Linked DNA regions of Homo sapiens. The protein of the gene in region 2 interacts with the protein of the main gene of each other region in a biochemical or structural test. Each region holds a gene or a part of one and is shown on either strand. Other genes may lie near its edges. The genes, in order: AGFG1, FCHO1, ITSN1 and DAB2.

Region 1 (7,025 bases), on a different chromosome or scaffold from region 2:
TTGGTTTAAAAATATGAAGGGTTTATTGATTGATTTTAAAGTAAAACTATACAGTGGCTTAATAATATTGCCTAGATTTTCCTCATTCGAGCATGGTTGTCCCCAGCTCCTGGGTATACTGCCTTAATTATGTCGTTGGTCCAATACTTTCAGAAGTTCTGCATTTCCCTCTGATTGGGTTAGCTTAGATCATGCCACAACTGGACACATGTTCTAACCTGACTTCATTGTCACAAGGATCCCCAAATAGAGTTCCCAAATCTGAAATCTAGAATTCTTGGGATGTAGGGAATGAAGACTAGAGTGGCAACCATCAAATGTCTACTGCAGAACGTTGGAGGGACAATAGCTTCTGAAGATTTTTTTCTTTGACAAGCAATAGTGCAGGAAAATAATTTAGGAAGAATAATATAACTCTTGGGTTTAATAATTATGTATCTGATGTTTAGATGACATGGTATAATTGAAAGAATATGAATTTTGAAGTCAGATTTTGACAATGCTACTAGCTTCGTGGCTTAGGGCAAGGTGTTATGCTAGGCCACTACATGCAGATTGGCCCAGATCCATCCTTGTAGCCTCAGTTTCTTTATTTATGTTAAGAAGATATCATATAGCTCAGGGTTGTTAAGAGGATTCAATGATACACATCGTTACTGTATTTACTTATTGAGCACATACCGTATTTGAGGATAGGGCTAAGCACTGGAGTTACAAATATTGAAATAAGGCATGCTAGCTGCCGTTCCTTGATTTACCTGGAAAATATGAATACATAGCAAATAGTATCCACTATCATGAATTCTAAATTTTAGGATAGTGACATACCTTCTATCATTTATACTAATACCTTTTTTTAAAATAAATTGAACTAGCATCTTGTTGTTAATGTTACTAGACTTGGAGCTAATCTTTCTTGTTTCTTTTTTTTCAGATGACTGTCCTATATGCTTGAATGATGTTCATTCAGAGTGTAACTGAATTTAGATTGTAAAACTTTAAAATGAACTTCAGAGTTAGATGCAGTTAAACTATTTGTTACTGAGGCAGAATGATGAAGGCATCCTAACTGATTGGTTTGTCACTATCTTTCACTGTCTTTCTGGTTGTATTTATGGAAATCCCTAAAATTCTGAATGGACACTTCAGACATTTAAAATATAGCCAACAGTAAAAATGGCCTTCATGTTAAATAACTTCTAGTTGATTTAAAGACTAGTTTTAGACTAAATTATTTGTTTTATGGAGACTATAAACATTAGTATAATTGATATGTAATATAAAAGATTGTCCTAGCCTTAAAAAGTGATCCATAAATTTTTCAGTGAGGGTTTAGATAAAATAAAAAATAACATTTGAGAAAGAGGTTGCCACTTTAATACCATCTATTTTATGTGGACAGTGCATTTAAGCTTGAAATTTCACAGGTAATAAATGTAGCTGGATAGTAACTTATATTCTGTTGATTCTGTGTACATTGACTCTTGAGATGAATGTTACAAGAATTTTAATTTTTTTTAGATGACAGATGAAAAGAGGTATTTAATGTTTTTATACAATTAGTAGCATTAGGATGGATTGCAAATCAGATGCTCTTTTGGAGCTCTGTGTATAATATTCAGGACCTTGTGAGGTCACAGTGAGCAGGGATTTATATTCTTAATTCCTTTTTTACTTTTTTTGGATACTCTGATATGGCCACATTCAGTTAAGTATTTAGAGTAAGTGGCCAAAATATTTTATACTTTCTCTCTCTCTCTTTTTTTTTTTTTTTTGAGACATAGTCTCACTCCGTCACCCAGGCTGGAGTGCAGTGGTACGATCACGGCTCACTGCAACCTCTGTCTCCCGGGTTCAAGCCATTCTCCTGCCTCAGCCTCCCAAGTAGCTGGGATTACAGGCGCCCGCCACCATGCCCGGCTAGTTTTTGTATTTATAGTAGAGACTGGGTTTCGCCATGTTGGCCAGGCTCGTCTTAAACTCCTGACCTCAGGTGATCCACCGCCTTGGCCTCTCAAAGTGCTGGAATTACAGGCATGAGCCACCTCGCCTGGCCTAGATACTTTTTCAATTGTGAAGGACAAATTTTTTATTTTAAGCAAATATTTATTAAGTGCCAGATACTAGCCCATGTGCTGGAGATACAACAGTTAAAGTATTTATTGAAAAAAAAGAAAAAACTATTGAGTGCTAGCTGTGTGACAGACATTCTAGTAACAGTGATGTGAGGAAGGTACTATTATCCAAGCTCAACTTTAAGTTGTAAAATTAGTGCACACTCTTAGTGTTTTGCTGTTATAACCTGCTAGAAGTTGGGATCTGGAACTGATGCTGATTCCACCACCAAAGAATGTATGGTTACCATGGTTACCGTAAATTGTTGTGAATTCTATATTTTGGGGATTTAAATGGTAGATTTTACTTCATTGTGTTTCAAATGGCAGAAAAAAGACTTTTTCTTTTTTTTGTTTTTATTTTTTGAGACGGAGTTTCACTCGTCACCCAGGCTGGAGTGCAGTGGTGCGATCTCACCTCACTGCAACCTCCACCTCCCAGGTTCAAGCGACTCTCCTGCCTCAGCCTCCCAAGCAGCTGGGATTACAGGCATGCACCACCATGCCTGGCTAAATTTTTTTTGTATTTTTAGTAGAGATGGGGTTTCACCATGTTGGCCAGGCTGGTCTTGAACTTCTGACCTCAGGTGATCCACCTACCTCGGCCTCCCAAAGTGCTTGGATTACAAGCATGAGCCACCATGCCCAGCCCAGAATAGATATTTTATGATGCATCATAAATGTTTGTTTTATGGCTGTGTCATGCTTTTTATTATTTTTAGGGAACTTCTTAGCTCCAAAATGTGTGTTCTTATTTTTGAGTTTCATTGAGAAAATACTGTTGTGTATTCTGAAATCAATGGGAATGATGGTGCCGTTCCAACAGCGATTCTTTTCAATTTGGCATGTGCATACTACCATGTGCCGTAATTCTCGTGCTATTTTTTATATTTGAATTCTAATTAGAACCCCTCATTGTATGCAGTCAAGTTTGATAGTGGATAAGTTTATCAAAAAATTCAGTTAAAGCAAGCAATCAGTAAAAAAAAAAAAATACATACATGCACACATACATATACATGTATCTATTATATATACATATATAATATATATATTTAGCAAGCATAGGTTTTTTTGTTTGTTTGGGTTTTGTTGTTGGTTTGAGACAGGGTCTCACTCTGTCGCCCAGGCTGGAGTGCAGTGGCATTATCATGGTTCACTGCAGCCTTGACCTCCCCAGGCTTAGGTGATCCTCCGACCTCAGCTTCCCAGGTACCTGGGACTACAGGCGCGTGCCACCATGCCCAGCTAATTTTTGTAGAGATGGGGTTTCGCCATGTTGCCCAGGCTGATCTCCAACTCCTGGCTCAAGCAATCCTCCTACCTTGGTCTTCCAAATTGTGGGGATTACAGGCGTGAATTACCATGCCCTGCCTCAAGCTTAGGTTTTTAAATTTTAACATACAACTGTTAATTTGCTGGCACATAAGGCTTTGAATATGGGTCCACTGATTAGATTCTTTGTCCCCTAATATAACCCAGACTCATGCTGTACTATTTATGATTTTTAGCATTTTAATGTACTTATAAAACAGTTTGAATGCTGAATTCTTCTAGATTTTTATGATTTTTCTCTCAGTCTTTTACAGTTCTTTTCCATGGTCAAATAACAGCTTATCCTAGTGACTTGTTTTAGTCTCTAAAAATACTTAGTTTACATGGAAATAATTCTTCTCACTCATGCCATTGTTTTACATGACATTCACTTAAACTATATACTTACCAAGTACTGTACCAACTATATTACCAAATACTATACCAGACAAATTTTGATAAGCATAAAACTCACTCTCTCCTGAGAGAGGAGCAGGAGAAAGTGGCCTTCTAGCCATGAATGTTCATTGTGCAGTAGGCATTAACTTTAGGTTTCTCAGAGGGAAGGAGAAACATAGATTTAACCAGCAAATTGGATAAGAAGGACTCTTCTGTATAGTGCTGTGGGTACCTTTTATACTGGGAAAACTCCAGCATTCAGGTTGTGGTGACATCATTTGACCATAACTGAGTATAAAGGCATTATTGCCATGTTAAGCCTTTTTCTGTTCCCTATTCATTCATCCATCATTTTTGGCATGTGATTTTTAAACACTGGCTTTTAGTTTCAAAGTGGATAAAATACAGTTTAGATTAAATTTACATTAAATTTTATAATATTAGTGCATTATAAATGAAAAGAATTAAGACATTGTTTTAAAAGAACTTGCCGACCTCTGGATCTCAATTTGAAAATCATTGTCTTTTTAGAAACCTCTGTATCTGTTCCAATAGCATTCTTTGGAAAACAGGCAAATCTCCTTATTTGATATTTTCCTTCTTTTCTGTGCAGCGTGCATGATGTTCACATTTGTGAGAAACTCCTATGGAAATATTCGGGACTAGGTTTTACTACTCCCCCTCATTTTTTCCCCCACTTGAATGTGTTTTCTAATTCAAATCAAAGTGATGATTGTCTAGGGAAATACAACTTGGATACCTTTAATGTATGTAAAAACGTTTTAAAATCAGTTATAACTTTGAGTACTTACATTAATAGCATGTTCCTTGTGACATTTTTTACAACCTTACACACGAGAACTATTGCTAAAGACACCTGATTGAACATTAGAATGAAATTCATGAGCTATTCAGTGGGGACAGGAAACTTATTTGAGTTGTTTGAAATACAGAGAATTAATTTTTGTTTGTGTTAGAACATACTTTGCTCAAAGACTTCTGACTAAGATAGCAATCTTTTTGATTGACACCATACATGTTTTGTAGAGGTCATAATTATACCTTACTTTTATTCTGGTTGCTTGTTTTAAGAGGAATGTTAACAAACTGGAGCATGCTCCAAGGAATCTGATCAAGATGGTAAGGAAGTTTGAAACTATGTATTAGAGGAACATTTGCAGGAACCAAAAATGCTACTAGCTTAAAGAAGAAAAGATTAGACAGTGGGGGAGCTGTACACATGATCACTGTCATTGGGTAATTTAAGGCATTGGGAGAGGTAATACATTTATTTTTACGACTCTAGGGGGAGATGCAACACCAGTGTTTGTAAGTTATGGAGAAACAGTGTATGTTCAGAAAAGGAAAGAGGAATTTTCCTTGTAATTGTCAGATTCCAAAAATTCTTGTCTTTCCATATTTCTTATTTTATTTTATTTTATTTTTGAGATGGAGTCTCACTCCATCTCCCAGGCTGGAGTGCAGTGGCGCCAACTCAGCTCACTACAACTTTCATCTGTCAGGTTCAGGTGATTCTCCTGCCTCAGCCTCCCTGGTAGCTGGGATTACAGGCATGAGCTGCAATGAACTTCCTTCAATATGATCAGATGCATCAGCTACTTTTTTTTTTTTTTTAACTGTTTCTGGGTACTTTTATAATCTTCTGCTCTGGAAATGCTGCTGTCTAGGCCTGCTGTGCGGCTCTCATACCAGAACTTTTCTTCTATCTTCATTCTGGAAATTCCCTTCACTTGTAACCTATGTTAGATGCTCTGTTTCCAGGACCCCCAACATTTCCGTTAGCCTCCTGATGAAAGGTGAATGAGAGGTCATTTTTGAAAGCCACAAAGCTGAAAATGTTTTATTCTGCCTTCTTTTTAAAAATTAGTTTGCCTACATTCACAAAGGTGAAAATACTTTACCCTTGGAACTTTCAATATATTGCTTAGTTGTCTTCAAACCTTCAGTGTTGCTGTTGAGAAGTCTGATGCTATTCTTATTACTGAGTCTTTCTGACCCACTTCTTTTCTTCCCTCTTTTGGAGTATGTAAGATCTTCTTTTCTTCCTGCTGTTCAGAACCTCATATTGAAGTATTTTGGTGTAGGTCTTTTGTTCAGTGTTTTAGGCTTTTTTTTTTTTTTTTTTTTTTTTGAATTTGTTTGGAAACTCACGCTTTTTATAGTGCAGACATATTTTCTCCAATCTTCTTTTTTGGGGAATATAAAAGCCTGTGATGCCACTGTTCTGGGAACCAAGTTGAGGGAGGTGACTGTCATTCTGTGTGTTTGATCTTAGATAATCCTCCAGCTTTCCACATGGTCCCTAACAAGAGTCTTCAGCAGTGTCTTGAGTTTGAAGTCTCTGTGGTATAACCTCTTTAAAACTTTCCTTCAGACTTCCCACCTAGGGCTGGTGGGAGTATGCTTTTGGCTGTTAAGGAACTGGAGAGTCTAATGATTTCTGACCCCACTTTAAGCCCTCACCTGTATCCAGTTCCTTCAGTAAATCTTGATATGTCCTGTGGTGGGAATCAGTTTCCAGTTGGCTTCTCCCACCTTTGCAGAAGCTTCTGTTTTGGCTTTCTCCATAAAGTCACTTACTGCTGGTATTTTGTTTTTAAATCTTCCAAATTTTGTTATTCAAGAACTGTCGTGTGCTTTTGGACTCTTCTCTTGTTCTCTGACGCTCTGTTTATTTTAATTTTTGTGGGCACATAGTAGGTGTATGTATTTATGAGGTACACAAGATAGGAGTTTTGATACAGGCATGCAGTATGAGATAAACACATCATGGTAACCCTCTGTCTCTTGTGGGTTAATACCTTCTTATTCCTTTACTGTCATTTCGTTGTGGGTTTGGGCATGTGAAGAGATTTAGATTTTGTCCACTACTTTTTTTTTTTTTTTTTTTTTTGAGACAGAGTCTCGCTGTTGCCCAGGTTGGAGTGCAGGGGCGCGATCTCTGCTCACTGCAAGCTCTGCCTCCCGGGTTCACGCCATTTTCCTGCCTCAGCCTCCCACGTAGCTGGGACTACAGGCGCCCGCCACCTTGCCCCGCTAATTTTTTGTATTTTTAGTAAAGACGGGGTTTCACCATGTCAGCCAGGATGGTCTCGATCTCCTGACCTCGTGATCTGCCCGCTTCGGCCTCCCAAAGTGCTGAGATTACAGGCGTGAGCCACCGCACCCAGCCTTGTC
Region 2 (7,735 bases):
CTGAATCCACGGGATGAAATGCTGGTAATGAAGGGAAGAGAAGATCCTTAGGGCCTCCCAAGCTTCTGGTCTGTGCTCCTGGGCTGCCCTGACTGAGCCTGGGAGGCTGGTGGAGGGGCAAGAAAATCAGCCGGGTGCCCTGTCCCTAAGCAGAGGGTAGGATGGGGGACTGGCGGGTGTTGTGTAAGTTTATATTTTCTTTTTCTTTGTTTTTGTTTGTTTGTTTGTTTGTTTTTTAAGACGAAGTCTCACTCTTGTCGCCCAGGCTGGAGTGCAGTGATGTGATCTCGGCTCACTGCAACCTCCGCCTCTCGGATTCAAGTGATTCTCCTGCCTCGGCCTCCCAAGTAGCTGAGATTACAGGCGCCTGCCACCATGCCCAGCTAATTTTTGTATTTTTAGTAGAGACAGGGTTTCACCATGTTGGTCAGGCTGGTCTCGAACTCCTAACCTCAAGCGATCGAGTTCGAACTCCAAAAAAGAACTATCATATGGCATATGAGGGGATGACCTCCTCTGCAAGGTGCCGGATCCCGGGGCTGCCCTAGGCCGGCTGCAGACTTGCTGTGTGGCCTCCAAGCAAGATCTTGCCCTCTCTGAGCCTCAGATTTCCCATTTGTAAAATAAAGACCAATAATGTCCAGGTTACAGGCTTGTGGGGGGTCATCAACTGAGCCCTGCCTGTTCGCTCAATAAACGTTGGTCGCTCCTTACTCCTTACCACTGAGTCTCAGGGCGAAAGAGTGGCGCCTGTCTCTTTAAATTATGCAAATAGACTGCGGGTGGCGTAAGGGGGGGAACATAAAAAGGAGCCTAGTCTTCGGCTGGACCAATCAGCGCGCTGAGCTGGCGGAGCTGGGCGCCTAAATGGCCCAATGGGGGGCCGCGCGGGATCAGAGCCCGCCCTGCCTCCTGGCGCCGTCGCGGGGGTGGGGACTTTCTAGGCCACGCCCCGGGGGCGGAGCCCGCCGGCAGCCGCGCCGCAGCCGCGGAGGGAGGGGCGGGGCGGGCTCCGGTGTCAGCGACCAAGCCGCAGGTGGCGGCGAGCGCGGGGCTCGGCCCGAGCTCAGGAGGTGAGTGTTGCCCCCCGGAACCCCCTGGGATACCCTGGCCCGCGCAGCCTCCCACGCGCACCGTGCCCTGCAGCCCCGGCGGCTGCGGAGGGCAAAGGCGCGGCGGGACGCGAGGGATGGAGAGCAGGGGGTTGGGGCTACGCGGTGGGCGCCCCGGCTTCCCCCTCCAAGTGGTAATTGGGGGTCCGCAGGCGAAAATGGGGACCGCTCCCCAAATCCCCCGTCTCCTGGCCTAGAACCGAGCGTGCACGGGGGCGGCGACGACGCGAGACCCCTCCCCAAATTCTTTTATTCTAAGCCTAGGTCTGGGTTCTGGGGCTGCAAAGATGGGGGCGCCGCTCCCCTTCCAGCCTGGAACCCTGGGCGGTGGCTGAGATGGGGACCACCCGCAGATTCCCTCTTCCCAGCTCCGGCCTGCAGACCACCGGGGACCGAGACGAGGGACCCCTTCCCTTTTCCTCCACTGTGAACCCCTATCCAGGCCTGGTGGCTGGAGGAGCTGGGGTGTCACCTGGCCCCTCCTCTAATCTGCCCCATCCCAGTCCTCCACCTTAAGGATGGGGTGGGGGGCGTTTCACTGGCATCTTCTGTGGGGACCCCAAGGTTGGAATTTTGGGGAGGAGGTCACTGTGGGGTCCCCTGCCTGGCACGGTTTATCCAGGCCAGGCCTTGAAGGGCCTGGAGCCTGGACTTGGGGGGGGGGTCCCTCTTTTACTGAGGGGCGGGGTGTACAGCTAGCATCTGTTTCTGGGGATTAAAATAAATCGAGGTAAATTAGGATCTTGCCAGAGGCTGGCTGTGAGTGGGGTGCGGAGGAGGCTTGGGGGGTGGGGGACCCCTCCATCTGCCTTGGATCCCCCGAGTCACCTGCCCCAGCTGCACTGGGGACCAGGAGGCAGTGTCGAATGGACCTGCTTCACTGGTGACCTTGGGCAGGTGACAGCACCTTTCTGAACCTCGGTTTCCTCTTTTGAAAATTGAGGTTGGGAGCTTCGGACCCTGCATTTTACAGATTCTGAACTCACCCAGCCCACATTTTGTCCAATGGTGATTCACTCTTTTGCTTAACATGTGGGTGGTTTGGGGTCAAGACAGCATTGGGTTTGGAGACCCTCCCACAGTGCCTTGCTATCCTCTCAGCCTCAGTTTACTGCACTGCAAAATGGGTTGATGATGACACTCTGATATTGGGGCTGAGGGCATGGGGACAGGGAGTAAAACATAGGACCAAGCTGCAATGGCTGGGATGGGGCATCGCCACCCTGGTCTCACCATTGGGGCCACTTAGGGCACACCCTGACCCACATACCATCACCCACGCCAGGGGTGAACCTGTTCTCGGGCGAGGTCCTGGGCAGGAGGGGGTGGGAGTTGCCAGGCCAGCTCATTCCCTGTCCCTTGGAGCGCCCTCCCAGTGGTGGGCATGGGGCTGGGAGTCTGACACCCCCAGGTTTGAATTTGCCTCTACCTGTGTGTGTGTTTTTCCCTTGGTGCCTTTGTTTGTTCTTCTGTGAAATGGGCTGAATTCCTCTGGGAAGATGGGAGGAGTCTGTGGGAGGAGGAAGCTCTGTAAATACAGACATGATTATTATAATATTAATGACAGTATTAGTGCTCTTTAAATCGGGTCACAGCTGACCAGGAGGAGGGAGGGGAAGGGGGAGTCTATCAAAGGCATTGCCTGAGGAGACTCCAGCACCTGGGAAAGTTGGGTACACAGTAGGCATTCAATAGATGTTTGCCAAATGAAGTGAGGAAGAGGGAGGGGACCCATGGGGAGGACAGAAAATTTCTGAGAATCCCTGGCTCAGATTCCCACTTGGTGGCCCGAGTCACTGTGTGACCTGGGGCACGTGTCTCAGTTTCCCCATCGTGGTGCTGGTTGAGATAAGATACTGCCTTGAGGTGTGGTGACGAGAATCAAGCCAGATTGTCTGTGATCGCAGCCCAGGTGGCGAGGCCAAGAGGGGAGACATGACATAGTGGGTCATTGAAACAGCATGGTACCTGCTTGAACCAAGTGACTGGTCCGTGGGAAGGATGAGAAAACCCTTGCTACTGGCCCTACTGTACATACACTGGGGTCCAAGAGAGAGGGAAATGTGAGATCCTGTTTCCCAGGATCCTGGAAGCCAGATCGTGGAAGGTCAGGAGTGGCCCAAGGTCATCAGGCAAGACGTCAGCGGCTCCGGACACCCAGCCAGGCACCACTCGATTCCCAGGATGGGAGCTCGGGTCTTGCCTTTGTTGCTGATGTGGTTCCTGCTTTGTTTTATCTGTTCTGGGGCTGCTCACATGTCTCAGCCCCAGGTTTGCAAGACTTGGTGCCGGGAAGGCAGGATGGGGACCTCTGAGTCAGCTGGCAATGTGCTGTGTAACCTTGGGCAAGTCTCCGGCCATCTCTGGGCTTTGTGCTGGTACTGTACAGGCTGGGAGACTTGGGTTCTAGCAGGGCTGACTTCTCCATCAGACCCAAAATGCCCAGTGTCTCAGGCTCACAGTGCTTTTAGGGGTCCCTAGGTTGATGTTTTCACTTCTTTTAAAATCCAAAGGGAAAAAAATGAACTCTTGGGTTGAAGGAAACATTTTTGTGTATAATATTAATATATTTGTCTTTATGTCAATGTAGTTGTAAAATACAGTTTTGTTTTGTTTTGTTTTTGAGACAGAGTCTCTCTCTGTCACCCAGGCTGGAGTGCAGTGGCTCGATCTCCGCTCACTGCAACCTCCATCTCCTGGGTTCAAGCGATTCTCCTGCCTCAGCCTCCCGAGTAGCTGGGATTACAGGCATATGCCACCCCACCCAGCTAACTTTTGTATTTTTAGTAGAGACGGGGTTTTACCATGTTGCCCAGGCTGTTCTCGCACTCCTGGGCTCAAGCAATCCACCTGCCTCGGCCTCCCAAAGTGCTGGGATTCCAGGCATCAGCCACCACCTAAAATATAATTTTAAATTTCTTTTGTAGTGAAGGAAAGCGCTCATGAATGCAAAAATGTCTTCCCCTTTCTTTTCTTTTTTTTTTTTTTTTGAGATGGAGTCTCGCTCTGTCGCCAGGCTGGAGTGCAGTGGCGCAATCTCGGCTCACTGCAACCTCTGGCTCACTGCAACCTCCACCTCCCGGGTTCAAGTGATTCTCCTGCCTCAGCCTCCTGAGTAGCTGGGACTACAGGCATGGGCCACCACGCCCAGCTAATTTTTGTATTTTTAGTAGAGACGGGGTTTCACCGTGTTGGCCAGGATAGTGTCAACCTCTTGACCTCGTGATCCACCCACCTTGGCCTCTCAAAGTGCTGGGATTACAGGCGTGAGCCACCGCGCCTGGCCATGTCTTCCCCTTTCTGAGCGCATTTCCCTCTCTGAGCCTCAGTTTGCCCAGTCTGTGAAGTGGGTATCGGCCTACCTCAGGATGGCAAGATGTTGAATGCCTGGGCCAGGGTTGGTGCTCAGTTATTTCCCAATTGCCATGATTAATATTTGTTCGGTAAGAACAGCTCCAGGTTCAGGCCGGGGGGCTCCAGGTTCAAGCGCCTCTTGTTTACTCACCCATGGCCTGTGTGGTTCCAGGGAGGTCCCATGGGTGCTGATCGGGCGGGGGAGGAAAGGTGGCGGTTGGATGGTAGGCGGGGCGGGGTGAGCTTCCTGTCCCCCCCCCAACCCATGCACACAAGCCTCCAACTTGGTGCTGACGGAAGTGGCCTCGTGGCTGTCTCCTGGCGCCTGCCCCGTCAGACAGGGGCCCCATCCCACTCGCTACCCTGTCCGGTGAGTTTGAGCCCTGGCCAGTAGATACCCATCATCTCGCCTTGGCCCCCCTCAGGAACAGAGGGGAGGCCCCCCTGCCCGGAGCCTGGGTTTCAGGAGAAGTAGCAGGTGTCACTTCCTGGGCTGGCCAAAGCCTGCATGGGGCCACCCGTTGCCCTGCCCCCCGTCCCCCATTCCAGCTGTGAGTGGTGGTTTGGGTTAGGGGGGCGGCAAGGGGAGCTTGGAAACCCAGAGAGCCACGCGTGATGGTTTCAAACAGGAGGTCATTGGCAGACAGACCAGGGGCAAAATCACAGTCAGCCGGGACCAATGATTGATCTCTCTGTGCCTCGGTTTCCTTCATAAAGTTGGGGTTGCCTCTGAGGGCATGGCATGAAGATTGGATGAGCAGATGCGTGTGAATAGTTGGGTACAGGGTCGCACACATACTGGTGCTCCATGTGTATCTGTCTGCCAGAGGTGGGGTGAGGCAATCTAATTGAAACTGTGAAAACAGTAGTGAGATTCTTGGTTTCTGGGGAACTTGGGCTCCTTGGTTCCTGGGATCTTCTAGAACAATGTTGGCCATCCAATACAGCAGCCATCAGCCCCATGTAGCTACTGAGCCTTGGAAGAGAGGCTGGCACAGCTGAGGAGCTGGGCATATAATTGTATGTATGTATGTATGTATGTATGTATGTATTTAATTATTATTTTTTTAAGACAGAATCTCACTCTTTCAACCAGGTTGGAGTGCAGTGGGGCAATCTTGGCTCACTACAACCTCCGCCTCCCAGGTTCAAGTGATTCTCCTGCCTCATCCTCCCAAGTAGCTGGGACTACAGGTGTGTGCCACCACGCCCTGCTGATTTTTATATTTTTTGGTAGAGATGGGGTTTCACCATGTTGGCCAGGCAGGTCTCGAACTCCTGACCTCAAGTGATCCACCCACCTCGGCCTCCCAAAGTGCTGGGATTACAGGCGTGAGCCACTGCGCCCAGCCAATTGTATTTAATTTTACTTGGTTTAACATTAATACAAAAATTAATACAAAAATTAAGGCCAGGGGTTGTGGCTCATGGCTGTAATCCCAGCACTTTGGGGGTCCCAGGCAGGAGGATGGCTTGAGCTCAGGAGTTCGAGACTGGCCTGGGCCACACTAGTGAGACCTAGTCTCTACAAAAAAAAAAAAAAAAATTTATTTTTAATTAGTTAGACATGTAGTCCCAGCTACTCGGGTGGCTGAGATGGGAGGATCACTTGAGCCTGGGAAGTCGAGGCTGCCATGAGCTGTGATCATGCCACTGCACACTCCAGCCTGGGTGACAGAGCAAGAACCTGTCTCCAGAAAAAATAAAAAAATAAAAAAAACTTAATACAAAAATTATTCAGGCGTGAGCCTGTAGTCTCAGCTACTCGGGAGGCTACTATTCAAGGCTCCCTTGAGCCTGGGAGGTGGAGGCTGCAGTGAGCTATGATCGCACCACTGCACTCCAGCCTGGGCAACAGAGCGAGACCCTGTCTCCAAAAAAAAAAAAAATTAAGTCACCACATGGGGCTAGTGGTTCCCATGCCAGTCAGCACAGCTCTAAGAGATTTGGAGATGCTTAGGGTCCTGGTCATGGACAGAAGCTAAGAAATGATATGGAAATTTAGGGCTTTTCCCCTAGGGATGTCAGTGTAGCATGCTCACCACCCTACCCCTGCCACCAAACTAGGTTTCCTAAGGGGGTGTGGTGGGGACTGAAGTTTTTCAGGGGCCCTGTCATTAACCAGTGCAGGGTTGGGAATGTTTGTTGAAACAAATAATTCCTTGCCCAGTGAACTCCTATTCATGCTTTAAAACCCCAACTCCCATGAGCCCTCCTTTAGTCCAGGTTCTTTTGGACCTTGTCCCTCCATCTGGCCCAGCCCTGACCATGCAGGACGGTGATATCTGTGTCCAGCTCTGTCTCTCTAGACTGGGGACTCCTGCAGGGCCAGGCCCGAGGCTGAATCAACTCAGGGACCCTGACATTGTTCTAGTCTGGGTGAGCAAGTAGGAGGTCTTGGGTGACTCACAGAAGTCCCGGGATTGGAGGCTCAATGATAATGGGTCCAATTAAACTAACTAACTTTCTTTCTTTTTGAGACAGGGTCTTACTCTGTCGCCCAGGCTGGAGTGCAGTGGCGCCATCTCAGCTCACTGCAACCTCCGCCTCCCAGGTTCAAGCGATTCTCCTGTCTCAGCCTCCCAAGTAGCTGGGATTACAGGTGCCCGCCACCACACCTGGCTAATTTTTGTATTTTTAATAGAGACAGGGTTTCACCACTTTGGCCAGGCTGGTCTCAAACTCCTGACCTCAAGTGATCTGCCCGCCTCGGTCCCCCAAAGTGCTGGGATTACAGGCGTGAGCCACCACTTCTAGCCTAAACTAACTTTCAAGATTAGGTAAACTGAGGCACAGAGAGGGGCAGCCTTGCCCAAGGTCTTGCTCAGTCCTTTCCTGGGGAGGCCCCGGGAGCTTCCCCATCCTGTGGTCACGGGTCCCTGTCACTCCTGCCACTGTTCCTACGAGGCTCCCAGCTGCTACCGAGCTGCCTGTGGGGTCATGAATTATGCATGAGGCCTGCAGGCTCCAGTGACAAGCCTGGCCTCTAGAACATGCCAAGGACACTGCCTGTCCGTCCCCTGCCGGGCGGCCTGACCCAGCCTCTTGTGCAGAGACACCTGGGGCTCCCCGGCAAGATCCCTTCTAAGCATTCCTTCTTATTTTGCAGATGGGGAAACTGAGGCACGGAGCTGGACAGTGACTCAGACACCAGGTGAACACTGGCTTTTGAGGGCAGGGTTGGGACTCGTGGGGGCAGCAATGCCAGCTGGGTCATCACAGTGAGGAGTGAGCTCTGACTCCCAGGAGGGTACATAAGGTGAGGACTG
Region 3 (7,025 bases), on a different chromosome or scaffold from region 2:
ACAAGTTCATTGACAGATAATCAAAACAGATTCAAGGAGAAGAAGAAAATCAGAATAGCCCTATATCTGCATAATGAATTTTATAATTAAGTCTTCAAGAAAGCTCCAGGCCCAGAGGCCTTCACTGGTGAATGCCACCAAAATTTAAAGAAGAAATGCTATTTCAACACAAACACTTTTAGAAAATAGAGGAGGAAGGAATATTTTCCAACTCATTTTCTGAGGCCAGCATTACCCTGATATCAAAACTAGACAAGAATATTAGAAGAACACTAAAAACCAATATCTCTGTTGAATTGAATTCAACAGATTTAAAAAGATCCTTAATAAAATAATGGGAAATGGAATGTAGTGAAATATTTTAATAAAGGGTAATATACCATGACCAAGAGTGGTTTATCCCAAGAATGGAAGGCTGATTTAACATTCAAATGGCAACCATGTACTTCATCATATTAACAAAATAAGAAAGAAAAAACACATACTTATCTCAATAGATGCGGGGAAAAAACATATGATCTATTTCAACACCCATTCATCATAAAAACCCTCAGCAAAAGGAGAAGTCCATCAACCTGATAAAAGGTGTTTACAAGAACCCTGGTTAACACTATACTCTATGGTGAGAGAGCTTTCCTTCATCGAGAGGGAACAAGGCTCTTCCCACTTCTATCCAATATAGTATGGGAGGTTCTGGTCAACAAAGTAAGACACACAAAGGAAGTTAGTTAAGCAATCACAGATATAAGGTCAATATACAAAAATAAATTCTATTTCCATATACTGGCACCAAACAACTGGAAACTAAAATAAAAATATGCAATATACAATAGCATCAAAAGCCACAAAATACTTAGGGATAAACTTTACAAAGTATCTACAAGACTTGGACACTGCAAACTACAAAACATTGCTGAGAGAAATTTATAACTACCAAAATAGAGATTTATGCCATAGATTTACTATTGCTGAGATGTCAAATCTTCCCAAATTGATTTATAAATTCAATGGAATTCCAACAAAATTCCAAGCATTTTTGTAAAAACTGATAAGCTGATTCTAAAATGTACATGGAAATGTTAAGGACCTGGAATAACCAAAAACAATTCTAAAAAGAACAATAACAGAGAATTCGTATCACTTGACTTCAAAAATTAGGTATCAACAGGGTGAGGTACTGGTAAAGGACAGACAGATCAAAAGAACAGAATAGAGTCCAGAATAGACCATTACAAATATGTTCAACTGATTTTCAACAAGCTACCAAGGTAACTCAATGGGAAAAAAGCCAGTGTTTTTAATAAATGGTGCTATAACAACTGTGTATCAGTATGTAAAAATATAAACCTCAACCTTTACCTTATACTATCTGCAAAAATCAACTTGAAATAGCTCATAGACCTAAACATATAAGATACAACTATGAAACTTAAAATTTTAAGTTTTTTTCAATTTATAAAAACTTGTAAAAATTATTTTTTTAAGCCCCAAAAACTTCTAGAAGAAAATAAAATATTTGCAGTCATGGGGTAGTCAAAGATTTCTCAGATAGAACATAAAAAGCATGAACACCAAAAGAAAAAAAACGGTAAACTGAACTTCATCAAAATTTAAAACTTCTGCCCTTTAAAAAATACCACTAACAAAAATTAAACCCAAGCCAGATTGGGAGAAAATATTTGCAAAACACGTATCTGACAAAGGACTTGTTAAGAATATAAAAAGAACTTTTACAAGTAAATAGTAAGACAAACAGCCCAATAAAAAATGGGCAAAAGATTTGTTCAGACACTTCAACGAAGATGCACAGTAAAAAATACTCGCCAATAAACATGTAAGATGATTCCCAACATCATTAGCCTTCAGGGAAATACAAATTAAATGATCAGAATGTAAAATGGTACAAACTCTTTGCAGTTTGTCAGTTCTCTTTCTTTCCTTTCTCTTTTCTCTCTCTTTTTTTTTTTTTTTTTGAACAGGGTCTCATTCTGTGGCCCAGGCAGTCAGTGGCTCAATCATAGCTCACTGCAGCCTCGATATCGTGGGCTCAAGTGGTCTTCCTGCCTCAGGCAGGTACTACAGGTGAACGCCCCCATGCCAGCTAATTTTTAAGTTTTTTTTTTTTTTTTTTAGAGATGGGGTCTTGCTATGTTTCCCAGGCTGGTCTCAAACTCCTGAGCTCAAGCAATCCTCTTACCTTGCCCTCTCAAAGTATTGGGTTTACAGGTGTGACCCACTGTGCCCAGCCTGACAGTTTCTTATGGGGTTAAATATACACTTACATGACACAGTAGTTCCATTCCTAAAAGTTTACCCAAGAGAAATAAACCATTTCCACATAAAGACTTGTACATAAATGCTCACTGCAGTTTTATTCATAAAAGTTCCACACTGGAAAGAACCTGAATATCAACCAGTAGGTGAATGGACACATAAGGAAACACTACTCAGTGATGAAAAGAAACAAAAGAGTCATTCACTCAGTAACATGGACACATCTCAAAAACATCATGCTGAGAAAAAGCCTAACATAAAGGAATCACAGGCAAATATGATCATCCACAGGCAATATTTACATGAATTTGATGCCCCTGTAGTTCAGCACTTGATACCAAACCAGGTGATATTATAACAACTTTGGATAGGCTTTAAAATGAAGACAGAACTACTAAAAGTGCTCTGTATGTCTCCAACTATTTAGTATACATATAGCTCTCATATGACCCCCTAAAATACTTAAGTGTACTTATTTATTGTAATTACCACAGTAAAGCCAAAGTCCTGTTGGTGGACTACAGGTTCTGTGTGATCCAGCTCCCACCTGCTCTACCCAGTAGTCTCCTTGCTGTAACTGGCATCTCAGAGTCCTGCTACGACCTCAGGACTTTGGCACTATTTCCCTGCCTAGATCTTGCTCTGCCAGATACCCACATGGCTTAGCCTGTCATTAATTTCAAGTCTCTGCTCAAATGTCACCATCCAGAAAGACCTGTCTTGGCTACCTTAGTTAAAATCACAACATTTCCTATCCCTAGGACTCTCTATTCCCTTCCCTACTCACTCTCCATAGCACTTTTCATCTTCTAATACAGTACACACTTTATTTTGTTAGTCTCTGTTCCTCCTGCAAACAGAGGGTAAGCTCCCAGAAGACAGAGTGTCTGTCCCTGCTGTAGCCTCAGAAACTGCAAAAGCACCTGGCCCGAAGCAGTGCTCAGTAAATATTTGCTGAGTTTGTCTCCTTGACAGGCTACTTTTCACACAAGGACCCTGTCTACTTCATTTTTGCTTCCCAGTGCCTAGTACAAGACAGTTGCTTAATGTTTACTGAATAAGTAAGTAAATGAAATGAATTAGAGAAAAGGATGCCAGTTTAATATAATAGCTTTTAAGAGGCATATTTCCTCACCTGTAATTGTTGCTGTAGATGGGTGATTTCGGCAATTCTCAACTCTCTAGATTTGTTTGTGCTCTCAATTTCTTGCCTTTGGGTGGTCAATCGACATCTGATATCTTGAAGTTTCCCTTCTAGTTGATGCTTTTTATCATTCTTGAACAAATGAAAGATAATAAAAATTATTACTGTTTTTAATGGTTCCATCTTAGTATATTTTCAAAGTATAACCAAACTTCACTCACTAGAGCTTCTAATTCAAATTCCAAAGTCTTTTTCTTTGCTTTCAGTACAACTATGTCCTCTTGTTCTTTGTTTCTTTGATTTAGTAGTTCTTGCCTTCGATTCCGTTCCCACTCAAGTTGTCGTTGCCTTTCAAGTTCCCGTTTTGCAGCCTGTGACATTTACAGAGACAAATTACTAATTTTTCAGTTCTTACACTACACAATGTCTTTTCACAAAAATGGCATCTAGGAAGTCTTTCCTTTTAGGGATGAAATATTAAACATTACAAGAAATCACATTAGAAAACAAAAAATTACATAAAAATACAGTATTCCTTCTATGGGAATAAAGGGAATACACAGAACTGGGTATTATATTTACATAATACTATATTTACGTAAGATGACAGGATTATTTCCCCATTAGAATTCCATTCTTTATGCCTTCAAGAATGCTTGATGTGCTAACTAAAAATGCTCCTTCTTATTTACTGACACGCCAAGAAGGAAAATTTATGTAGTAAAATCAAACTAAAACACCCCTGAACAAAAACAAACAAGAGTTGATTTTACTCCACCAAAAGAGAAATTATTACTTAACTCGTTTTAAAAGTCTGCGACTCCCCACTTCCTAATCATTCATTTCCTTTTTACCACAAAAGCTTTTGCTCCCTCCAACGACTGGCTCTGACGACTGCTAGATAGAGTACATATCAGAGCATCTGACAGTCTATGGGAATTGCCTCTGACTCATGGGTCATCCAACTACACCTGATACATGGTAAATGTCTATTAAATAATTCTGAATAAATACTCTAGAATATCATTTTTTTGGTACGTTGAAGAAAAGTTTGCCTATCTTTGTTCATTCTGAAAATTAAAATTTTGTTAGTGTCTGTCTGAACAAAAAGGAGTTACGGGGCCGGGCGCAGTGGCTCACGCTTGTAATCCTAGCACTTTGGTAGGCCGAGGCAGGCGGATCACCTGAGGTCAGGAGTTCGAGACCAGCCTGGGCAACATGGCGAAACCCTGTCTCTACTAAAAATACAAAAATCAGCCAGGCATGGTGGCTCACGCCTGTAATCCCAGCTACTCCGGAGGCTGAGGCAGGTGAATCACTTGAACCCAGGAGGTGAAGGCTGCAGTGAACTGAGATCGTGCCACTGCACTCCAGCCTGGGCAACAGAGCGAGAGTCTGTCTCAAAAAAAAAAAAAGGAGTTATGGCTATAAGTTTTGTTTCTTTCTTTTTTTGAGACAGGTTCTTGCTCTGTCACCTAGGCTGGAATGCAGTGGCCTCCAACTACTGGCCTCAAGTGATCATCCCTCCTTAGCCTCCCAAAGTGCTGGGATTACAGGCTTGAGGCACAGCACTCAGGCTATTTTTTTACATCGAAAAATTCCTCATTTTTATCTTTCATTCACATGAAAGAACCATGTGTTGCTTCTGCAGTAATGTACTAAAATTGGAAAGAGAGACAAGATTTGCTTAGCCCCTTTCCAGGTATGGCGCTAAATTTACGAAGCCTTCCATAGAATATAGGGAGGATGTCCCAGACATATTTTTAAAAGAGTTTAAAAAGAAGGTTGCATGGGCCAGGCGCGGTGGCTCATGCCTGTAATCCCAGCACTTTGGGAGGCTGAGGCGGGTGGATCACCCGAGGTCAGGAGCTCGAGATCAGCCTGACCAACATGGTGAAACCTCATCTCTACTAAAAATACAAAATATTAGCTGGGCGTGGTGGCGGGCACCTGTAATCCCAGCTACTCAGGAGACTGAGGCAGGAGAATCGCTTGAACCCAGGAGGCAGAGGTTGCAGTGAGCTGAGATCATGCCACTGCATTCCAGCCTGGAAGTGACAGAGCGAGACTCTGTCTCAAACAAAAAAAAAAAAAAAAAAGAAGATTGCAGAACAATGTAATTGGTATGATACTATTACAGTGGTTTTTAAAAAATTATACAGCCCTTACACTCTCCGCCATATAAACCTTTATATTTTTATATAGGTGTATACAGAGAAAACAGTCTGGAAAAACACTTTACTGGTATCAGTGGTTTGTTACAAAATTGTATCATCAAAAACTTGTACATTAATGTTCATAACATCATTGTTTATAATAGCCACAATGACCATCAACTGCTGAATGAATTAAAAAATGTGGTATACCCATATAACGAAATATTACTCAGCCATAAACAGGAATAAAGGACTGATTCATTTTACAATGTGGATGAACCTTGAAAACATTATGCTAAATGAAAGCCAGAAACAAAAGTCCATATATTGATGATTCCATTTATAAAAAATGTCCTGAATAAGTAAATCTAGAAAGATAGAAAGTAAAATTAATGATAGGAGCTGGAGGGAGAAAGAAATGGGGAGTAGCTGCTTAATGGGTAAAGAGCTGGAGTGATGAAAATGTTCTGGAATTAGGGACGATGGTTGCACAACTTTGGGAATATACTAAAACTACTGAATTGTAAAAAGACAAAGATGGCGTGAATAGATCACTTGGATAATTCTGAAAAGGGGTGATCGCACACTAACTCCGGGTGGCTCCACTCTCGCCTGCTTACCTCTCGCCTCTCAATTTCTTTCCTCCTCTCCTCCTCTCTCTGCCGTTCTAGCTCCCGCTGCTTTTCCAGTTGCTTCTCCAGTTCCAGTTGTCTTTTGCGCTCTTGCTCCTGGCGCTCACGCTCCTTCCTCTCCTGCTCCGCCCGCTCCAGCTGGGCCAGGCGCTCCTGCTCCTTGCGCTGCTGTTCCAGGAGAGCTTGCCTTCGTTTCTCCAGTTCCAGGTTGCCACGTTCAAAGTTCTCCCGCTTCTTATCTTCAAACGTTACTTCAGACAAGGAACACAGCAACTATGAAAACTCAAGATTTTCAACGGACTCTTTTCAAAGGAAAACTCACCAATGTATTTGAAATTTGTAGTACAAACCCAAACCCAGAACTCCCTAAGCTTCTGTGTCCTTGTTAATGAGCACAACGAAAACCCCCTTTGCCTAACCTCTCTGTTTATATCTTCTCCTCCACGCCAAACACTGTTTCTAAAAGATCCTTATCTAGCAGTTCTACATCACCATCCAGACTCCTTTCCTTCCCTGTTACTCCATCCTTTCCCTTCTTCCCATGAGCTTGCCCTAGGAATTAACCCCCTCTCTTCTGGACCATGAGTCTCTGTCTCTCTCCCTCCTTCCCTTTGCCTTGTAACCGTGCTGATGAGTCCTCTATTCTAACAAGATTTCTCAAAGCAGAGTGAAAGGTGAGCATTCGGCTTTTCACACTGAAGAACAAGCTGTGCCCTGATCCCTATGGAGATCACAGTCAGTCAACAATTTTTTCTAACCCATTATTCAGTTTCCTTCTTTAACACATCAATTATAAATTTAGAATGATTACTCAGTTCT
Region 4 (7,025 bases), on a different chromosome or scaffold from region 2:
CAGTCATGGCATCTTGTTCAGTTAATAATGCAGTCGTTAATTATTATATGGTTATCATTCAGTTATTTATTTACCATTTGATTTTACTGAACTCATTGGGAATGGGACTACACAGACCTTGTAAAAGGAGCAAAAGACATTATAAAGATGGGATAATTATCTTAATAATTTTCAAGAGAACTTAGGCATAATTCCTTTCTGCCTTATTGATAATTTAAAATGTTGGTAAATTGCTTGGCAGCTTATTTTTCTTACATTAAAAATACATATATTATCATCCTTATATTCCTTTAAAGACTTAAAAAAAACTATGATGAAAAATGTCCCCAACTCCCACCTCCCATATTCCCATACGTTTCCCATAACGCTGTCAATTTTGTACTTCTAACAGTTTATTTTCTCCCCACCTCAACTCCATACACAGTTGATTGTGGAACATGATTTTGCTCAAAGGAAGTAAGAATAAGACAGGACAGAATATTACATACATGATCAGTTGTAGTATAATCAGGATTTATATTACTTAAATTTTGGAGAGTCTAGAGCATATTTGGTCATAATTAGAACTAGCATTCTTCATCCTGTATTCCTTTCTTTTCTCAGGCCCTGAAAAGACAGATGAATATCTCTTAGCAAGGTTCAAAGGCGATGGTGTAAAATATAAGGCCAAGCTGATTGGCATTGATGATGTGCCAGATGCAAGAGGGGATAAAATGAGCCAAGACTCTATGATGAAACTAAAGGTAAAAGGGAAATGAATGCTTTATCTGTATATTAAGCAAAAGTCCAAGAGAGGGAATTATATTAGAAGCTCTTGTTGACCTATTGTTCAATTACTTGAAAACTGCTTTTAATCACATTATCCATCAGTAGTGCCCCATTTTCTGAGAAACCGTGAGTGTTTGCATATTTGGAGGGATGTCCTAGATACCTAATTTTATCAAGTATAATAGGACTCTAGATGCCTTTTCCTTCTGGCAAGCTCAACATTAGGACGAACCAAGCGTATTCCTATTTCTATTCCTATAAAAGCTGTGTGCAAATATTTGCATTGCTTGTCTTACTATATGTGGAGAGCACGGAATATCCTGTTTTAGACCTGGGAATTGTTCTGATAAAATTGAGGATTCTACTTAGACATTGGTGTTCCTTAGCGCTAGCCTTTCTGTTTTTTGAATTTAAAAATTTAGTACTATGGCACTATGTGAAACTGACTGAATAAATAATACTTGTTCAATAGTTCAAGGCCTAGAAGAAACATCTCTAAAGATCTTCTAGTTGAGCTTTACCAGTGACTATTCTGAGGCCAAGAGAATTAGAGTGACTTGTCCGAGTTCGCACAGCTAACTAAGGGATGCCCTGGTTCAACGTCTTCTATGCCGTCTTGCTGTCCCGGATGAAAAGTGCCGAATCCTCTCATCGATGGCAGATCAAGTCGAAAACAAAGCTGACTGACTTTGAAAATTTTAATATTAAAACCATTGTAGGATGTTTTTAAAAATTCAACTTCTCTTGTTTTTCCACCCTCATCAGGGAATGGCGGCAGCTGGTCGGTCTCAGGGACAACACAAACAAAGGATCTGGGTCAACATTTCCCTTTCTGGGATAAAAATAATTGATGAGAAAACTGGGGTAAGAATTCACATTTGCTGATACCTCTCTGACCACCTGAGTCTGACCAACAATTTGCTACTTGAATTTCGGCTCCCCTTCTTCGTTCTCAAAGTTCTGTGGGGAACAAATATATCATATATTACATCTCCAGAAGTAACAGGCAGAAAACAGAATAGGAGGTAAAAGTCAAGATACTTGATTTTGAATTTGTGTTCTATAATAAATGTGAATCTAAGTCTGTTAAGTCTGTTAATAGGCTTAGATTCACATTATGTCTATAATATATAAATATATATATTTTTGAAATTAAATAAATATATATAATTTATATAATATACAAATATACATTAAAATATAAATACATATATAATTTATAAAGTAAAACTTCTATATATATATATTTTTTTTTTTTTTTTTGACCTCGGGTATACAGAACTAGATTAATTTTAACCCCTAGTTTGTGACACTTTTATGTATTGCTTACATGTGAACTTACCGGCTAACCTAAAGCTAGAACCTCACCCATAACACATCTACCTCTTTTTCATTTCTTTTTTCCCTGCCTTCTCACCTCACAGATGTAACCTTGTTTTTGTTGGTTCCTGTTGTTCTATTACTTGTGAACAGTCTTACTTATTTTGCCTTGTTTTTAAGCCTTATCAGAAAGCTATTTATCATACATCAAGTCTTCTGTGATTTTTTTTCTGTACTCAATGTAACATCATAAGACTCATGTTTTTTAAAATGTTGTGTGTGGCTCATTTTCATTGCTATAAAATACTCTCTCGCATCACGATACTGTGAGGAGACCTCCAGTTACTATTCATCCCTTTCTAGAGTGCCCATTATCTACCATGCAAACCTAGGGCCCTGGCACCCTAGTGGACCCCACTCAGCCTGCTAGTGCTGGGGTCCTCAGGCACCACTCTCTTTATCAGTCGCCTTTATCTGTCAACTCTTATTTTCCCAAGCCCATCAGAGAAAGGTGGCATGTTTCTCTCACCCTTCTGTGTCTCCTCAAACTTTCTAAGATACTCTAAGATATCTTAGACATTCAGGACAAAAAGCCAAGACACACTCTGCCACCTACAAATATCCCTAAAGAGTTCAACCTTGTTAACTGCTTGAAAGGATCAAGAAAAAGGAGGGAAAAATAGAAGAAAAGACACTAAGCCAATACAGTCCCCACCCCTTATAATTCCTGGTTACTGATGTAGTCATTATGTCATTAACATACTGTAGTTATTACTACATTATGTTACTATGTATTAGGCTGTCTAGGTGAGGCTGAGAAACACTTGATGACAGTATTTGGTATCCTCCAGAATATACTGGGAATACGGTTCCAATAACACATAGGATGGTTCCTCGGCCACTCTGAGCCATCGTCAATGAATCCCTGTGAACACTCCTCTAGCTTAGTTATGCTGTTCTTTTAAGTTTGTCTTTGAGTTGGGAAAGTAGACCTATTTGGCTTGGCTTAAGGGCTAAATGTCTCCTCTTCACTTGGTCTTCTAATCCTCAGTCCTTCCTGGCTATGTGGCATCATGTCTTTAAAGCAGGGAGAGTAAAGTATCAATATTTTAAGAAGGAACATTCTTCCCACTTACGTTTTCTATTCTTCTTTCTTTTGAGCCCTTTCTAGAAAGAGTAATGCTCTAGCCTTCAACCAGAAATGAAAAGTCTATCTTCAAATGGTTTAAACTTTTCATATATGCCTTCATATATGTGTCTGAGGCTTCGGTGTGCTAGCCTGCAAATAGATTCTAGTTTTCTTAATAAATTACTCTTTATGTTCTTTTTTAAGGTAATAGAGCATGAACATCCAGTAAATAAGATTTCTTTCATTGCCCGTGATGTGACAGACAACCGGGCATTTGGTTACGTGTGTGGAGGAGAAGGCCAGCATCAGTTTTTTGCCATAAAAACCGGGCAACAGGTGAGCTCTAAGTCTTGACATAGACCTGGGGACTTGTCCTCTGTGGACATTGGAGTGTCTGTCACTCAACTAAAAGATTTACTGGAAATAATTGGATGTAAGAGGGCTAAATAATAATTCCGAGAATGACTATTTTTATTGGCCTATGGAATCTTTTAAAAATGTCATTGATAGCTATGCACTGCTGTGTGCCACAGGATTGTGAGAATGGACCTTCTTATAAAGTGAATACTGACTTCACAACAGTGGTGAATTATTCTCAGGAACCTTAAAGGACTTCAAATATGATCATGATACCTCTTGTTTTGTCTAAATACTTATTAACCCTGCTGTCTTTTATATACCTAAGGGTGAGGATTGGGTTGGTGGTGATCCCCTATAAGCCAGCAGAGGGTAGTAAGGCGTTTTAAGATTAAAAAAAAAATCCCAGTATGAATTATAATTGATAGCAGACAAAGGAAATAAAATACTAAAATTAAAATACGGATAACAGTGCTTTCCCTTACTGCAGGCTGAACCATTAGTTGTTGATCTTAAAGACCTTTTTCAAGTTATCTATAATGTAAAGAAAAAGGAAGAAGAAAAGAAAAAGGCAAGTACTACCTGATTAAGGCTCTATTAAATTTAAAACTGGCTGGGCATGGTGGCTCACACCTATAATCCCAGCACTTCGGGAGGCAGAGGTGGGTGGATCACCTGAGGTCAGGAGTTCGAGACCAGCCTGGCCAACATGGCGAAACCTCATCACTACTAAAACTACAAAAATTAGCCAGGGGTGGTGGTGGGCACCTGTAATCCCAGCTACTTGGGCGTCTGAAGCAAGGAGAATCACTTGAACCCGGGAGGCAGAGGTTGCAGTCAGCCGAGATGGTGCCACTGCACTCCAGCCTGGGCGACAGAACGAGACTCTGTCTCAAACAAACAAACTTAAAACTGTACTCAGGACTATGTTTAATATTATATATAAATATGGTCTATCTGAAAATTTGGCTTCTATATGTATTGTCTATTCTTCCCAATAGGGCAATGGATACATTTTTATGGTTAGGCACTTCTAATCTGCACTCCCTGGCTTTTATTTTTTTTCTCTCTATGAGATTCATATTAATTCTAGGAAATATACAGGACAACCAAGTTTAAATCCAGTAACTCTACTCAAACCTTATATTGATATGAAAAGGGGAGGGGAACGGAGGGCAGAAATAATATACAAGACTTATTCTTGCCTTATGCCTGTGAACCATAGGCATACTTGTTTGTGTATTTAACTCCCTTTCACTATGAATATGAAGATCACTGAATATGTATCTTTCTTTTTAGATAGAGGAAGCCAGCAAAGCAGTTGAGGTAAAATTGCATCTTTACTTCTTGTTAATCATGTGTGTGACATGCGTAAGCCCCTGTTTTCTACCTGCCCAACCACTCTCGCCACCTCGCTTATTACTATGTGTTTATGACTTCTCTGATCATGAAAGATGTTTAGTTAAAAGATGATACCAAAACCATTGCTGCTTAGCAGACTAATAGAGTGGACAAATACATTTTATAGACAAAGCTCAACTAAATCCTTAAATATTTGCTATCTTTTCAGAATGGGAGTGAGGCCCTAATGATTCTAGATGACCAAACTAACAAACTGAAATCGGTATGTATTAATATGTGACGTTTGACAGTTCTTACTTATCTGAACATGGGTTCTACTTCCTGTAGATGTTGCTGATACCAAATCTGTATTGAATCTATATGAAAATCCAATTGAGACAACTGTTTTTCAAAATATTAGTGTAACATCTATGTCAATATACAAAAGTAGTCAAAAAAAGATTAGAAAAGTAATCTTTTTAGTAGCCACACCTGAATCTAATCTAATACTTTTTAAGGATGTGGACAAGATAGATTTGCTTTGAGACATGTCTACACTTCCTGACCTAAACAGCTTAATATGAAATCTATTAGTTAAATGGAAATTAAATTGTGACAGCTACTTTCCTAAACTTTAGGAAACAAATGATTACAATATACGAAGTAATCTTTTTTAGTAGACACATCTGAATCTAATCCAAATACTTTTTTAAGGGTGTTGACCAGATGGATTTGTTTGGGGACATGTCTACACCTCCTGACCTAAATAGTCCAACAGTAAGTGTTTGTTTTTAAATTTGCAATGTAATAAAATGACATCTATAACTCAAATTGGCAATAACCAGAAATCTTAAGCATCTCATTGAAACTTGGAAGGTGACTGTTGATTTTTGCAAATGAAGTGTCAATGGTTTTTAGAATAAATGTGAATCTTAAGTCACCATGGGAACCTATCCACACTAATTCAGTTATATTAATATTGCTTACAGATTAAACCTGAACAATAAGTCAGCAATGTAGTCCTTCTTGGTATCACTTAGGATTAGAAGGAGGAGGTGAATAATAGTCCTTGAATAAGCCTACTTGAAGAAAGTATGACTGTTAGATGGTTAATCATAAAGCCTCCTGGCCTCTTCATTTCTTTTGCATTCTGTCTGTTGCAATTTAGCAGCATAAATTTGGTGTGAAGTAAGATTTAAAACAAACAAGTGGCTCAGTTATATTCCACCAAAGCTTGTCCTTGTTAGAAAGCTGCCCATTCTCATAGGATTTTATACCATATCCAGTCTGCTCAATATTGAATGATCTGTAACAACCCTGTAAGAACAGAACAGTATTTTCCTTTATAAATTAAAAAAAAATGGTGGTTCAGGGAAAAAAAAGAAGAAAAAAAAATAAAAAGGAAAGAGGTCCAGATTCAAGACTTAGGCCCAAGTCTTCAGACCTTCCAAAACATACCTCTAATGAAAATGTCCATGACATTTTGAATGACTTCTTGCAACTTCTTTTATTTATGTAACAGTTTCCTGAGCACCTGCTATTTGCAAGGCATAGCAGTAAGATGCACAACATCAATGACATCATGGAATTTACTCTCCGGCAGGGAGACCAACATTAAAACTAATCACATCGTTAGTAATTGATGTTACTACAGGGTATTTATCTAGTTCAGATTCAGGTAATGCTTCTGCAGGAGTGAGTTTCTAGATTTGAACATAAAAGATGAGAAGGCAATAAACAGACAAAAAGAGAATTAGTCTAGAATAATGGGGGGAAATGTCTAGAAAGGACTCTCTTGTATCAGGAAATTATCATGGAAGCCTATGTGACCAAGGTTACAGGAGTTGAAGCAATGGATCAAAGATTGGATAAAATTCTCCCTTCAGACTTCTGCAGAGAATTTGAGGCCTGTGAATCCTTACTGCATAAAACTTTCAGGTCAAATGAGATGGAGAGGAGCAGGGACTTCATGCATTCTTCTCTGACCCTAACCATATGAGTATCACAATGCATGGTAGCATTCTAAAATGCCTTTAAGAGAGAAGCCTGTTTAATATTCATTTTAGCAGTGAGCCCTAACTCACTTGCCTATAGAACCTTTCATTCTTCA

What was found.
Region 1: the proteins of FCHO1 (region 2) and AGFG1 form a complex in vitro, tested with the Homo sapiens proteins (one study listed by BioGRID).
Region 3: the proteins of FCHO1 (region 2) and ITSN1 form a complex in vitro, tested with the Homo sapiens proteins (one study listed by BioGRID).
Region 4: the proteins of FCHO1 (region 2) and DAB2 form a complex in vitro, tested with the Homo sapiens proteins (one study listed by BioGRID).

What each region holds. Positions count from the first base shown.
Region 1 is NC_000002.12:227,475,145-227,482,169, forward strand, and holds part of AGFG1 (arf-GAP domain and FG repeat-containing protein 1), read left to right. Parts: intron 1-7,025. UniProt on the Homo sapiens protein: Required for vesicle docking or fusion during acrosome biogenesis. May play a role in RNA trafficking or localization.
Region 2 is NC_000019.10:17,746,742-17,754,476, forward strand, and holds the start of FCHO1 (F-BAR domain only protein 1), read left to right. Parts: upstream 1-4,735; 5' UTR 4,736-4,836; intron 4,837-7,467; exon of another isoform or gene 7,468-7,575; 5' UTR 7,576-7,620; exon of another isoform or gene 7,621-7,725; intron 7,726-7,735. UniProt on the Homo sapiens protein: Functions in an early step of clathrin-mediated endocytosis. Has both a membrane binding/bending activity and the ability to recruit proteins essential to the formation of functional clathrin-coated pits.
Region 3 is NC_000021.9:33,771,493-33,778,517, reverse strand, and holds part of ITSN1 (intersectin-1), read right to left. Parts: intron 6,458-7,025; coding exon 6,195-6,457; intron 3,790-6,194; coding exon 3,640-3,789; intron 3,551-3,639; coding exon 3,410-3,550; intron 1-3,409. UniProt on the Homo sapiens protein: Adapter protein that provides a link between the endocytic membrane traffic and the actin assembly machinery. Acts as a guanine nucleotide exchange factor (GEF) for CDC42, and thereby stimulates actin nucleation mediated by WASL and the ARP2/3 complex.
Region 4 is NC_000005.10:39,386,972-39,393,996, reverse strand, and holds part of DAB2 (disabled homolog 2), read left to right. Parts: intron 1-603; coding exon 604-743; intron 744-1,533; coding exon 1,534-1,632; intron 1,633-3,421; coding exon 3,422-3,553; intron 3,554-4,064; coding exon 4,065-4,145; intron 4,146-4,873; coding exon 4,874-4,900; intron 4,901-5,144; coding exon 5,145-5,198; intron 5,199-5,629; coding exon 5,630-5,692; intron 5,693-7,025. UniProt on the Homo sapiens protein: Adapter protein that functions as a clathrin-associated sorting protein (CLASP) required for clathrin-mediated endocytosis of selected cargo proteins.